2 linked regions of the Homo sapiens genome follow. The protein of the gene in region 2 purifies or fractionates together with the protein of the main gene of each other region. This does not show direct contact. Each region holds a gene or a part of one and is shown on either strand. Other genes may lie near its edges.

Region 1 (7,131 bases), on a different chromosome or scaffold from region 2:
CAAAAGGTGACTGTATTTAATGCGGATTAACCACCACTCCTTAGATTTAAGCATAACTTGGTGGTATTAATACCAGAGGATGTGGTTAAACAAGACATGTGCACCTGATAGTCGTGGGAATACTATGAAGACCTCTCACTGGTTTGCAGTAATTACCATGAGCTCAATAGCAACAAGGGGCAGTGGTTACATGGGCTCACTCTTGGGCCAGACTCTGGCTTCAGAACCAACCTGTGTCACCTTGGGAAGATACTTAACCTCTCCATGCCTCTGTTTAGCCACTGGGTTGTTGGAAGGACTAAGTAAATTAAATCATATAAAACTCTTAGTGCCTGGCACAGAGGTTAGGCAAATAAATATTGGCTATTACAAATATTTGCTGAGTCTTCACATGCTGGGTAGCATGACCTAACAGCCTTCAAAAAGATATGTCACTTTACATACTGATAATGATAAACACAAAAAGCACTGAATACAAACCCCATTCTAAGCACTTTACATATAACAACTCGGTTAAGCTAAAGTTCTGATGTGACTGTTCCCCAACACGCTACACAGTTTGTTCAGAGCCAGGTTTCTATGCTTTTATGTGATTTCTTCCCTCAAACACTTCTTATACTCTGATGACATGCATACATGCCACCCAGTACTGCTAACCAACTGCTTTGAAATGGGAGAGATTAACCAGCTAACCACCTGTAGGCTTACATGTGACAAAAGCACTCAGACATGATAGGCCTACTTCAGGAAGCCTCAAAACCTCAGAAGTTGGGCACCACCCTGTATCTAGGTTTTAGGATTGTGTGTAGGAGTTGGGCTGTTGCTGATGTTATGTTCTCTTGGTCTCAAAAGACATTCTGGTTTTACAAAGGCCAGATCTACACTTTAAACATAATTAGGCAGAATTCACATTCATGCCAGCATAATATTGAAGAAAGGGGTGAGACAGCAAAGTGTGTAATTTTCTCCCTTTCAGTCAATGCTTGAAACTTACATTACGAAAATACTATCCTTCTATCATGCAAAATATTTCCCAAGTGTCATATGATCAACTATGTCAAATGTTCACCAAACATTTCCTGATATCATATATGTAAAATGTAGCAATACATTGAATGTCTCATAACCAACTATCTCAAGAACTCCTTCAAATTATGTTTAACATTCAAAATAGATACACCCGTTTCTTCTTTAAAAACTATTACCAACATGCCAGCACTTCTGGGCACCTTAAGTGTTATCACAGACTGAACTCTTCAGAAAGATGAAGAGTTAAATGTAGCTGCCTTTATTTTATCCTGGTCCTCCTTCCATAAAGTTAATCTGCTCCATTTAAGCAAAGGAAAATAAGTTATAATGCAAGTACAATATAATGGAGACTTCGATATAAAAACTTTCTACAAATGCTCCATTTATAATGTTCCAGTTATTTATAGGGTTAAGTAACTTAACCCTATAAATGGGTTGGTCCCATAACTTAATTACACAAATATTTTTAACAGTCAAGTATTTAACTTGAAAACGACAAATTGCACTGTACTCTTATTTTTTCAATCTTTAAAAACACTCTCACTAGGAGTCTTCTAAAGCCAAAATTAGGAACGTACCCTGCACTATGTAGTCAGAAGCCATTCCAAGAAAAGCAACCATTTAATACTGCTAAATCTAAAATGCTACATAATTTAACGTAAACTTGCACGCACGTGTATGTAGCTAGTCCCATACCCCAGAATCTTATCAATTCCTTCCCCAAACTTGCATATAATCCTCCCTCAAAGCCTCTTGGCTAAGTTAAATTCCTTAACACTCTACCAGGTTAATTGCAACAGCACATGTGCCAAGGAAATTAGTGGTTTTCCTTGCGCTCCCATTTTCAACCGGCACCTACTTGCAATTAAATCTCTGCAACAAAAAAGTTCACCTGAAGCCGTTCTTGCCATTTTAAAAGAGGCCCAGATTATGCTACCTGTCTGTGGTCTTGCCTAAGCTATAATAGCCTACCTCCAAAGAGGCTGGACGTGCCCCAAACACCAGCACACCAGACCTGCTGCCAACTTCGCTTGTCACCCCTAGCAGGAAGCTCAACCTAACATGTATACGTTTGTAGGGGCGGTGTGTTTGTGTGTGTCTGTGTTGGGGGGTGGGGAAGCGGATTATAGGAGAAAGGTGACTGAACACTTTCAACTTGTAACAAAAAAAATTTTTTTTAAATGAGGAGAAAAACAACTAAAACCAACATTCGCTCCCTTTCCTCCACCTTTTCTAAGCGCAGGAACCTCTCACTCCCCTGGAGCGCACCTTCAGGGCTTAAGGTCCCCGGGGTCACCTAAGCTTCAGCCAGTAACTGATTTTGGTACTCCCCGCCTTCCTAGGGAAAACCAGCAGACGCGCGAAGCGTCGGGCCCACCCGGCGGCGCCGCAGGCCGTGCACCGCCACCCCCGGACCCTCCCCCGCAGGTACGCTCCCCTCTGGCCTGGCCGTGGTCCCCACTCCCGCCCCGGAAAAGGGTTCACCTGAGGCCGCAGGGACAGCCAATGAGAAGTCCCCTTGGCCCCGCCAGCCGCCGCTCCCTACCCCCGCGCGACCCCCAGTAGCGTCCCCAGTGCTAGCCCCCGCGCGGGTGCCCGCGTCCCGGCCCGGAAGAGAGGCGGGACGACGGCGCGTCCTCTCCCCGCAAGATTACCTCGCAGCGCGTAGCCGGCTTTGTGTTTCCCCTCCCTCCTTCTCGGCAGCCGCCCGGGCTGCAGCAGCCGCCGGATCCGCCGCTGCGGCCGCCTCTTAAGCGCCGCAGAGCCCCAGAGGGTAGGGCGGGAGAAGGGGAGGGGGCTTGAGGAGGGAGGGACCTGTACGCCGAGCCCTGTGCAGCAGGAAGCGGCGACACCTGGGATGCCGACGCCTCTGGCGCTTGCTCTGTGTTTTAAAAAATCTAATTTAAACCCCTCTTCTTTCCCTCCCGCCCCTCACACTGGCGACCGTTACGGGCTGGCGGCTCGCGCTCTGGCGGGACTAGCCGAGCGCCCCTCGAGCGTCCCTTGGTCCCGCCCCCTAACGCCCCGCCCCTAGGTCCCCAAGCGCCCCCCCCGGTCACGCCCCCAAGGTCCGCCCCTCGCAGCCCCCTACGCCTCTGGCCCCGCCTCTTGGGCTCCGAAGCCTCCCGGCCCCGCCTCCTCAAGACCTCGCCTCTGGCAGCCCCGAGCTCTCTCTGGCCCCGCCCCGAGCGCCCCTCGGGAGTCCTGGTCCCGCCCCCGCAGCCCCCTCCGCGCCCTCAAGCTCTAAGTCCGTGAAGCCGCAGCGGTGGGGGCCTGCAGGCCCGGCAGCCGGGAGGGCCTGGTTCGGGGCGGCTGCCTGGCGCCTTTTCAACGTCCTCTTCTGACTGTGCAGCTCGAATCCGCGGCGTCCCCGGAGGGCCAGAGGGGGAAACGACCCCGATAGAAACCCGACCGCGAAGGGGAGGAGGGGCGCCTCGGAAATGTCTCCCGCCCTAAATGAGCGAGCCCCCTACTCCTACTCCCGAGGCTGAGCCGCCGCTTTGAGTCAGCCTCGGCCGCCCACGCTGGCTGCTGGGGCTGTAGGAGGCCACTGCAAAGGTTCAACCTCCGCACGCCCCCCGTGGGGCCTGGACTTTGCTCTCAGCACAGCTGCCTTCGCGGGCGCCTAGTCCCCACAACCCCTGCTTCACCTCCACATAGGGGGAGGACAGGGGCTCTCGCTTCTGCTTCATTTGGACCCCTCGAGAGTCTTCACTCCCGCTTTGGCTCCCGGCCTCTGAACCTTATGAGAGCTCACTTCTTTGAGGCGAAAAGTCGAGGCATCGCCAAGAACCTTCAAAATGAATGCGGGGCCGGGCAAACTTTGCAACACGCAATTGCAGGGCTGTGGATCCATCCACAGGTGACACCGGGCCTCCCACCCCCCTCGCCCAGACATGTTTCTCATCCCAACCTATTCTTGAAATAGACCTCCCAGCGGTGCACACTTTTCTCTGCCACCCACGACTTCCACGTCCCTCCTGCACCAGTACACTTGCAAGCACACCCCTCCGAGCGCCATTCTAATGATTCATGGTCCCTTGGGCCAACCCCACCCTAACACACACAACAAACTTCGTTCCCCACCCTTATCCCCCTTCGTTTCCAAGGCACTGGCGACAATCCACTTCATTTCCTTTCCTCATCTGCAGACTCGTCCCCCTCAAATACCTCACGCCATCCGCCTCATCTTCATCCCCCCCCTCCTCCCTAAAAATGTGCTAATTAAAATGTAGTTTCCTCTTCCCACATATGAAGTGTGGAAAATGAATCTTGTCTTGACACAAACTGTGATGCATTTATCGTTTTCTCTCTCCACTGGACTAAGGCTGTAGAAATTTTAGTCTACCACCATCTCCCATTTGCTCAAAAAATCCAACCATGCCTTATTATTTTTAAATACTCTTAACGAATCGTGGGGAAGGCTGCCTAGTTTGAGGAAGAAAATTGTTTAGAAAATGCTCAGCCTGACATTTTATTTGGTATTTAAAAATATCTGCAGTATTTGAGAGAGATATTGGGAGTGGCTGGATATTTTCTTGCATTTAAAAAGCAAAAAAATGAAAAGCTTTGCATGCATCAAGGTTAGCCTTTTTATGAATAGCAAAAAAAGTATCCTAAGGGCACCTATCAGAATATAGTCCTCACTATATTTTGCTAGTCGCAAATCTGGACACCCCCACCACCACCAAAGGAAGACAAATTAACATAATCCATTTTAAGCATGTCTGATGAACAGTCTTTTCCATGATCATTCCTTTTCTCACAGTTTCTGGACAAAATAGCTAGATAGATCTCCTTACCCACCGAAGATCCAAAGCTTCCTTCTAACAAGGGTAGTAGACGTACGTGTCTGTGTCTTCTGTTCTCTAGGTGTGGATTCTGCAATGCTGCACAGAAACCTACTGCAGCCTCAGACCAACAGCAGCAGCAGCAGCGGCGGCGGCGGCAGCAGCAGCAGCAGCATTAGCAGCAGCAGCTTCTCTCAATGCTGAGTAGTAAGTGTTTGACTTAGTAAACTCTACAATTACCATTAGGCGCTTGCTTATGAGAGGAGGCGGAATCTTTCTTAAAGGAATGGGTTTTGTTTTTCCTCTCTAGTATTGCTTCATAAGAGGCAGAGAGGATGGAATCAGGGAGTTTTGTGGACTGAGTAAATGAGTACAGCTGTGGGAGGTCAAGGTTAAAATTAACTGGGTGGTTGAGGAATGGAGGCAATGATTTTAGTGTAAGTCAATGAAATGCTAGAAGCACCAGTTTTAAAGAGCCCTGCTAATTTCAAACATTGGGGTAATGGCAAAATAAAGTTGTATGCCTTGAAACTGATTAGTAATTTGTGCTAATATTTAATTTAATTTAATATTTGTGCTAATATTCAACATCGTACTAAAATAATAACTATATAAAGGAAAGCTATTTAGTATTTAATATAAGAATAAAAAGAAAAATGAATTAAAACTCGTTTATGTGACTAGAAGCAATGGATTCAAGTCCTACCTATAAGCATACTTGGAACTTCAGTGAATACCAGTATTAGAAAATATATTGTTGACAGGTTTCAATGTGTGCTCATGTGATATAAAAAATCACAATATTGCCGGGCGTGGTGGCTCACGCCTGTAATCCCAGCACTTTGGGAGGCTGAGGCAGGTAGATCACGAGGTCAGGAGTTCAAGACCAGCCTGGCCAAGATGGTGAAATCCCGTCTCTACTAAAAATACAAAAATTAGCCGGGCGTGGTGGCAGGCGCCTGTAATCCCAGCTACTTAGGAGGCTGAGGCAGAGAATTGCTTGAACCCGGGAGGCGGAGCTTGCAGTGAGCCAAGATCGCGCCACTGCACTCCAGCCTGGGTGACAGAGCAAGACTCCATCTCAAAAAAAAATAAAATAAAATTACAGTATTATGTATAGAAAAAACAAAATATATCTAAAATAATTTTTGGATAATAGCACAGTATTAATGCTATTTCAGTGGCAATTCAAAGGTCAGCAAAATTAAGAAACACAAGTGGATTGACTGACTCTAAGTGCATATGAATCTGCTATTTACACTATTAAAATGTGTCGTGTCCACCTGAGAATCTGCATTATAACCTTACATTTTATCTTTATATTACTTGATTTAAGCACTTACCAGTTATGTTTTTTTCTCTATAAGTAAATGAAGAGGTGTGATCTCAAAATATGAATAGAAAGAAATAAAGGAAATATTCTGCCTTTAATTTTCTTTGCACAGCTTTTGTTAATGATGTACCTGTGTGATCTTGAACAAGTAAATAACCTTATTTGGTTCTTAGTTCCCTATTTTGTAAAGTGAGGAAGTTGGATTGAAATTTCCCAGGGTCTGGCCGGTCATGGTGGCTCATGCCTGTAATCCCAGCACTTTGGGAGGCTGAGGCAGGCAGGTCACGAGGTCAAGAGATCAAGACCATCCTGGCCAACATGGTGAAACCCTGTCTCTACTAAAAATACAAAAATTAGTCGACTCACTGCAATCTCTGCCTGCCAGGTTCAGGCGATTCTCCTGCCTCAGCCTGGGACTACAGGCGCATGCCACCACACCCAGCTAATTTTATGTATTTTTAGTAGAGACAGGGTTTCACAGTGTTAGCCAGGATGGTCTCGATCTCCTGACCTTGTGATCCGCCTGTCTCGGCCTCCCAAAGTGCTGGGATTACAGGCGTGAGCCACCGCACCCGGCCTCAATTTTTTTTTTTAATGCCTCCTACAGGGAGAGAATTAAAAGAAATTAGTTGCCCAGTTTCCTTCATCTGTTTTTGTTTTCCTTGCTTCTCTGCAAGGAGGGCTTTTTATTTCATCTACCAGGTAGTATTGAACAATGAATAAAATGGTGATTATTTGTATAATTCAAAGCATTCCCCCACATCCCCTCCCCGCAAATTGAATGCATTTCTTTACCTCTTCCCAAAGTGCTCAGCACAGTCTCTTATATAAAGGCACTTAACGGATACTTTAAAAAATGAATACACGATTTAATGAATGAATTGCTCCCAACATATCCAGAAACTGACTACAAAGTGTTTTTGTTTGTTTTTAATTTGCATTGTCCAAAACAACTGACTCCATTCTCTACCTCCCTTT
Region 2 (7,312 bases):
CCGAGAGCGAGAGGGAGCAAAGAGAAACATCAGGGGCAGAGAGAGAACAAGGAAAATGGCCTGGAGCCACTTTAAAACGCAAGTTCTTCATGCCTTACACTGCTTTAAAAAGTTTTAAACTCAGGAAGTGGGCCCTACGTGACAGAGAAAGACTCGGCCTGGGGAGAAAATTCACTACACGGTGTGGCTGACATCTGTCCTAATTCTGTAGTTTTAGCCACTCACATCTGATAGAATAACAGTAACAATCACAACACCGCTAAGGATGATCCCCATCCCATTACTGCCTGCGGTAAGTATTCACCACCAGCTTGGCGCAGGGCTGACTGCATGGCGAATTTGGTTAGCTTGAGTGATTCTCACAATAAGCCATGGGGAAGGGGTTCTTGCCAGCCCCAGTTTGCAGATGTGTAAACTGAGGGTCAGAGCAGTAAAGGGACTTGCCTAGGGCCACATCCTGGAGAGTGGCAGAACCTGGCCTCCCGCCCAGATCTGCCTAAGAAGGCATGAGGCTCTTCCAACCAGGAAGCCAGGACTGCGACAGGGAGGGCAGGGTTGTCTCAGGTCCCAGTCTCAGGCCTAGCTCCAGCCACATCACCCACACCTACTCAGGGTCACCAGATGGAGAACAAGTCTTAGACAAGACATCGGAAGCCCATGTGCACAGATGGGGAAGCTGAGGCTTGGAGTCTGTACCTTGGGTCAGGCCTGTGGCCTCCCCACCACACGTTGCACCAACCACATTAGCATCCAGTCCCGTGAGTGCTCATGTCTTTCCAAGTTCAGAAGAACCCACTGGCTTCCTTACCCCTTCCAGGGAAGAAACTAGGCTTAGCCCAAAACCCCGAGGAAAACTTTTGTTTCTACAACTGTCCCGATGCCTTCAAAGCCCGAGGAGGTTTCTGGGCTTAAGCGTTCTTAGAAAAGGTCCTCACTGCATAACTAAGAATCATGTTTCCCTGCTTAGAACAGAAAGGCAGCACCCCCTCCCCCGAACTGGATTACTAGCTGCTCTTGAGACACAAAGGGGTTGGCACAGAAATCAGGCTGGTGGAGAGGGCCGGTGAGAGCCTCTAGATGTGCCCCCCATGTACCTCTTTGGGACAGTCACTGTCACACGCTGGACTTAAGGGTTACTGTGATCCTCATGTTTCCTTTAGAACTTTGGAGTCATTAAGTAGAGAAGCCACCAGACTTGGTGTCCCGCCATCCTCCACCCCTCTCATTTACAGGTGGCCCATGAGATTCTTAAATCTGTGATAAGTTCCAGCTCCTGGGGAAATTCTCCTCTTTTCCCCACTTGCAAAACGGGGACGTGAAGCTGCACAGGGTAGACACTGAGAGAGGCTCTGGGAGTGTCAGCGGCCAGTCACGGGGCCACAGGGTAGACACTGAGAGAGGTTCTGGGAGTGTCAGCGGCCAGTCACGGGGCCGCATGGGTGGGCTGCCCGCCGGGGCCTGCCTAGCTCTCTCCAAAGGGTCCTTACGCTCAGAAACAGCTATTTTCACCATCCCTGTCTTAGGGTGAACCTTCAGATTAAGTCACTCTCCCAACTCTGCCTAAATGCAGCTCTTTTCACCCTGGGGACGGCCTTCTCTGGGGTCAGGAAGCAGGCCAGGAAAGGAGCCCCAGGGTCCCAGGGTCCTCACCGGGACCCCCAATACCCTAGGCACACTCTGGAGACCGGGCTTTGGGGCTGCAGAGGAGAGGCTCCTCTTTGCTGTTCCTGTTAGGGCCTCGCCAGAGGGACACTGGACTTGTCTGCATAAAGCGGTCTTCTGCCTTGGAGACAGAAAGCGATACACTGTGAAGAAATCGGGCTTCTAAAACTAACTGTGCTCTCAAACACAGTGCCGTTTGGAACGGGGAAGCACTCCCCCAGCTCCTGGCATACACTGGTAAAAGCCAGAAAGATAATTGAGGCCCAATCGCAAAGCCCTGAACACACCGGTCTGGGAGTTGCAGAGTGCCTGAATGTCTGCCATGGGCCCGCACAGGGCCAGAGGCCTGGAGGGCAGCCCTGCAGCCTCTCTGGTGACCCCTGATGGCACAGACACTCCTCAGGCGGACGGCACACTTGCTCTGCCAGGAAACACTGGGAGTAATGTCTCTCTGCTTTCTCGGCATCTTGCAGGGAAGGACACAGGAACCCGGGGGGAACAGTGGCAGGGTAGATTGCAGGACCGTGACTCCAATCTGGATCCACAGGCAAACTTTTCAGGGAGCCACCGGGCCAATGAGGCCACCTGCATACCTGCCTAAAGCTTCCCTCTGGCCTCCGTCCTGTCTTCATGGTATCTCCACCTTCCCCCTATCCGCGGCCCCCCACCAGGCCTCCAAGCTCGGCCATCCCTAGCAGTTCCCAGAGCTGGCTCTCGGCCGTACTCACATGCCCTGCTCGCCGTACTGGTTGTAGAACTCCATGTGGCTGCACGCCTGGATCCAGCCAACTACCCAAGTCTCCTTCTTGGGGATGGGCGGCATGACCACCTGGGCCGAGGCCCGGAAGTGGGGTGTCCGGTAGCGGAGCACCACGCTGGAGGACTCATCGATGCTAGTGGGGACGGGGTCGATGGAGGCTTTCACATCAATCACCGTGATCCCTTCCCGGAAGACTCTGGCTTTGCCTCCGATGCTCTGAATACAGCCCATGGCATACAGGAGCGCTCTGATCTCCAGGGAAGGCCAGCAGTCACAGAAAAAACCAGGCATTGAAAGGACAGAGGCTGCAGGACCCAGTACAGACGGCGCTGCTCTCCAATCTCAACTCTCAAGACCGATATCCATAGGATAGAAAACTCACTGAGTAGACTGGGGTTGCATATATCACTACCGCGGCCTGTTTATAAATAAGGATTCTGCTGCATTTCATGAGCCCTGGGCTCTCTCTTCTTCTCCTCGCAGTGGACAAAAATCACCGATATTCTTTGGGTTAAAAAAAGTTTGTAGTTTAATGAATAATTATGCGGTTCTGACATCCAGCCCTTCTGTGCCTCACACGCGGGGACGGCAGCTCGCAGACTCTCCCTGAAGTCTTCGGAGGAAGCAGGCGAGCGCCGGCAGACTCATAAATAAGGAAGGCTCTGTCCCCGCGCGGCCGCGCCACCCTCGCGGCAGAAGCCTGACTTCCTGCCCTCCGGCCTTCCGCACGCGCTCCCTCCGGGCCCCGCACCCGCACCCGCCCGGCGCGGTCGAATCAATTGCAGAGCAGTTTGTGTTCACCCGGCCGAGGTCCCGGCGCCCTCGGGGCGAGCGCCGACCCGCGGCTTCCAGGAGGCGAGCTCAGGGCTCCGGCCGCTCGCCGGTGACGGGGGAGCGCGGCGCGGGTCCCCGTCGGCGCCCACTCGCGGGCGCGGGCCGGACGTCCCCACGCAGGGGCGCCGCGTCCCTTCGCCGCTGTCGCTGCCGGCCGCCGTGCAGGGTCCCGGGGCTGCGCTCCGGCCGCCGCCGCCTGCTTCGCCGCGGCCGCCGAGGACCTGGTGGGAGGTGGAAGGGACAGCGCGTCAAGGCCAGCCTCAAAGTTAAGCCGAACTTTGCTGCGGGGGGCGCGCGGGGGCGGCGACGCGTGTGCGCTGGGCGCGGGCTGCGGAGCTGACGGCGCAGCTCTGGGCGGTCTCCCCGGAGGCGGTGGCCCCCGCCCCCCGCGCCCGCCCCGTCAGTGGCGGCCGCACGACCGCGCGCACCAGCGAATAATAGCCGCCCGTGACATCTCCGCTGATACCGTCCCGGACGGGCGGGGTGGGGGGCGAGCGGCTGCCGCTGCAGGGGGCGGCGAGCACTTGCCCTGCTCTGTCCCCACCGCCGCGCCGCCAGCGCCAGGTGCCCCTTCCCCACCCCGGTCCCTCCGGCTCCCTGGGCGCAGGGCCACCCACCAGTGCCGTCGGATCCGGCGGGCACCCCTTTCCCGGCTGGGGTCCCTCGGCCCTCGGAGGGCATAGTGCCCCCGCTCCGCCGCGTCAAGCGCCTCTGTCGCCCCTCTCCAGCCGCGAGCAGCCCCGGGTCCCCACGCGTCGGGCGCGCTCGCCGCTGCCGGGGAACTTTGGCGCGCACGCCCCCACTCGGGCGGCGCCGCCGACTCACCTGCCCCGGGGGCCACTCCGCTGGCCCGGGCAGCCGCTCTCCGGACGCCCCTGACCCGGCCGCGGGCACGTTCTTGGGGCGCCCCCACCCCCTTCCCCGGGCACTGTCCCTTGGCTCTACTGGAGTCTGGGGCCGGCGTGGGCGCCCCCGGCCCCCACCCTCCTCCCGGCTTGGGGCTTCGGGGGGGCGGCCGGGGGCGGAGGGCTGAGGCTCGGGGCTCTCTCGCCCCCACCCCGCGCGCCTCCTTTATTTTATGATCATTGTGAGCGCGCTGTCGCCGCTCAGCCCCGCCGCCGCGCCGCTGCCGCCTGGCGCGCCCCGCGCTGCCTCGCTCTGCTGCAGCATCGGAAAGGCAACCGGGTCAAACTTTGCAGAAACTCGGCCCCTGCGCCGGCCCGGCCCCCGCGTCCGCTCGCCGCCGCCGCCGGCCGAGCGCAGCCGGCGCACGCAGGGACCGCCGCCCGCTCGCCGGCCCCGCGGGGATGCAGGTCCGCAGGCGGCGGCGGCGGCGGCGGGCGGGCGCCGCCTCCTCCTCCCCGCCCGCCTGGCTCTCCACCCTCGCTCCCCGCACACAGCCCGCCCTCCCCCTGGTAATCCCTCGCTCCCCCTCGCTCCCTGTCTCTGCAGCTGCTCGGGGAGCTGAGCCTCTCCTTGAACAAACGACATTTCCTTTTTGGCCAGCCCCGGGAATTCTGGGTAGTGTAGTTCCGCTGCTGTCTCGGGGCCAGGTGGGCTGCTCCCAGTGCCCTTTGAACTCTATGGACCAGAGGCTTTCTGGGGTTCGGAGCACCCGCAGAAGGGCTCCCTTGCCCTGGGGTTCCTGACCGCAGGGAGACAGTGGCTTGGTGGAGACAGCGCGGGGGCTTTGTAGGCTCCAAGGCTGGGAAGGTCGCGGGGAGGGGAGAGCAGTTTGGGGAGAGGTGGGTCCCCTCGAGCAGGTCTGCTGGCTGCCTGTTGGACCCCGGCTGTGTGATGAGCGCTGTACAGAGCATCATTTCAGCCACCATCGGCCTCCCTGTGGAGGGAGACTGATGATGTGCACTTCACAGAGCAGGCACCCAGAGCTGAGAGGCTAGGGGATTTGCCCAAGGTCCTTCCCCCCGTCCCCCCGCAGGGGTCCCAGTGCAGGGGCTCAAAAGGAGCATGAGGCTGTACAGCCATGGGAGAGCTATGAACCCCACCCCTACCTTCCAGCCAGCCGTAGGGAAAGCCCAAGCAATTTGTGACATAAGTACATCTGGCAGCTACATTAAAGCCACGCTCTTCGTCCCCACCCCATCCCCATGACTCTGACTTCCACAGGTGCCCACAGCCGGCACAGGGCAGGTGCTTCCAGCCAGTCCCAGAGCCGGAGCACGCTGAGTGTGTGAGGGCAGGGCTGGAGGGACCGAGGGGCTGGCCACTCTTGGATCTCTCCTTTGAGGGGTTAACAACCAGGACATCTCACAGCAGCACCGGCTCAGCCATGGAGCAGGAAGTGGCTGGCTAGGGTGGCCTCCGCCTCTCACCCAGCCACACCCTCACCCCAGCACTGCTATGGCCCGTATCCCCAGCTAATGAGGAGGTGGTCCCTTTCCAGTTCAGCTAGTAGGTGGCTTATTCCTAGTCCCACTGACTCGGGCCAAGGCAGGGCCACAGAGATGGCCCCCTTGGCCTGTTGGACACAGTAGAACCCCAGACAGCACACAGATTACATCAGGGCTCTACATAAATGTCCATTTCCAGGAAGAAGTCTTCTCTGGCCTCTTCACCATGTGAAATGGCCTCTCCCTTCCATGAACTAATGGCCCCCACAAAACCTTCTGTCCCTCTGACAGTCACAGGGCCTTCTGCACCTCTTGTGCCATCAGATAATTACTGCACTACCCAGTTTATATGTAGGGACGATATTCACTTTTGAGATGTCTGTTTCATTTCCCGACTCTCATCACCCCGACAGCCTGGCCAGGGTGCTCTGTGAGGGTAGGAATGCTATCCTGGAAATGAGGTGACAAGTTCAAGTGCTCAATGAACAGGGCCAGAGCTGCACGTCCCTCTCGTGGAAAGGACAGGGACCAGAGCCCTGAACCGCCTTGTGAGCAGTGAAGCTGCTGGAGGTGATTTCCCGGGGGTGGGCTCTCTTCAAGGCCAGCTGGGAGTGACAGTGCCCCGCCCCCTCCGTCCTGGGCTCCGCCTGGGTTTGTAAAGCACCCACTGTGTGTCAGGCGTTACATTGAGCAGGCACTGTCTCTTCTATCCTTGACCTTAGCCCTAGGCAGTGGGCTCCACAGATAGAGAAACCCAAAAACCCAGGGATCAGGGGATAGAGACTTCTCAGAGGCTGGATGCCAGCTCCGATCTGACCAGCTCCAAAGCCCACATTCAGCTTCTTCACCAAGCACACCCCACTTGCTAGCCAGGGCCAGCCCCTCAGAACTAGGATGGGACTGATCACTAGGAAGTCCTACCAGCAGAGGTGTGTGGGCGCCCACATGGTGAGGACTTGCAAAGTAGAAGACCCCTCTCCCTTAACCTGCTCCCCCTTGACATCACCCCTGCACAGGATGTCATCTCAGTCTGCAGGAGAAGGGACCAGGAAGCATCAGTCCATGGGCCTGTTTGCCGGCTTTGAGCTGGGGGGCAGCTCTGCCAGGCAGAGGGTGTGAATGGGCTCGGCTCCTGCATGCACTCCCTGCCCTGGCTTCTGAAGCGCCCACCAGGGTTCTGGTGGCTTCCCCAGCTCGCGGCCCCTCCGGCCCTGCCGCTTCCCTACACAGCCCTTCCTCCTGCTCGTCATTTTCCGGAGCTCCGTGGGTGTTGGGCACAGACCCACGGCAGCCTCAGCATATGTGGAAGGCTCATGACGCATCCACGCGCGTGTGAAGTGCCGGTGTCTGCAGAGCAGAGGAAGGGGACATCTGTTTGAGTCATTGCCCAACAGCACAGGGCACTCCCATTGCTCTCAGGACCCTTTCCCCTCCCCCAGGCCTCAGGCTCCCTGGACTCTGAAAAATGAGAAAGAGGAGGGGTGGGGAGACACGGCCCCATCCCCCACCCGGGATGGTGAACACTGGGATGGCCACTTGGGAGCTCAAAGTGTTGTCAGTGGGAGGACAAGGTCCTCAATTCCTGGCACATTGGCCCAGAGAAGTCATGAAAACCCAAAGCCACACAGCAAGTCAGAAGTAGAAACAACACTGACCCTGCCAAGCTGCAGGGACCTGGGAAGTCTTTGGAAAAGAGACTGCTGCA

The links. Proteins that work in one complex are often made in the same cells at the same time.
Region 1: the proteins of FAM78A (region 2) and ADD3 purify together in Homo sapiens (affinity purification with mass spectrometry; 3 studies listed by BioGRID and IntAct, with this or other methods). This does not show direct contact.

Annotation. Positions count from the first base shown.
Region 1 is NC_000010.11:110,003,853-110,010,983, reverse strand, and holds the start of ADD3 (gamma-adducin), read right to left. Parts: upstream 3,001-7,131; 5' UTR 2,685-3,000; exon of another isoform or gene 2,002-2,684; intron 1-2,001. UniProt on the Homo sapiens protein: Membrane-cytoskeleton-associated protein that promotes the assembly of the spectrin-actin network. Plays a role in actin filament capping. Binds to calmodulin.
Region 2 is NC_000009.12:131,273,467-131,280,778, forward strand, and holds the start of FAM78A (protein FAM78A), read right to left. Parts: upstream 3,045-7,312; 5' UTR 2,714-3,044; coding exon 2,391-2,713; intron 1-2,390.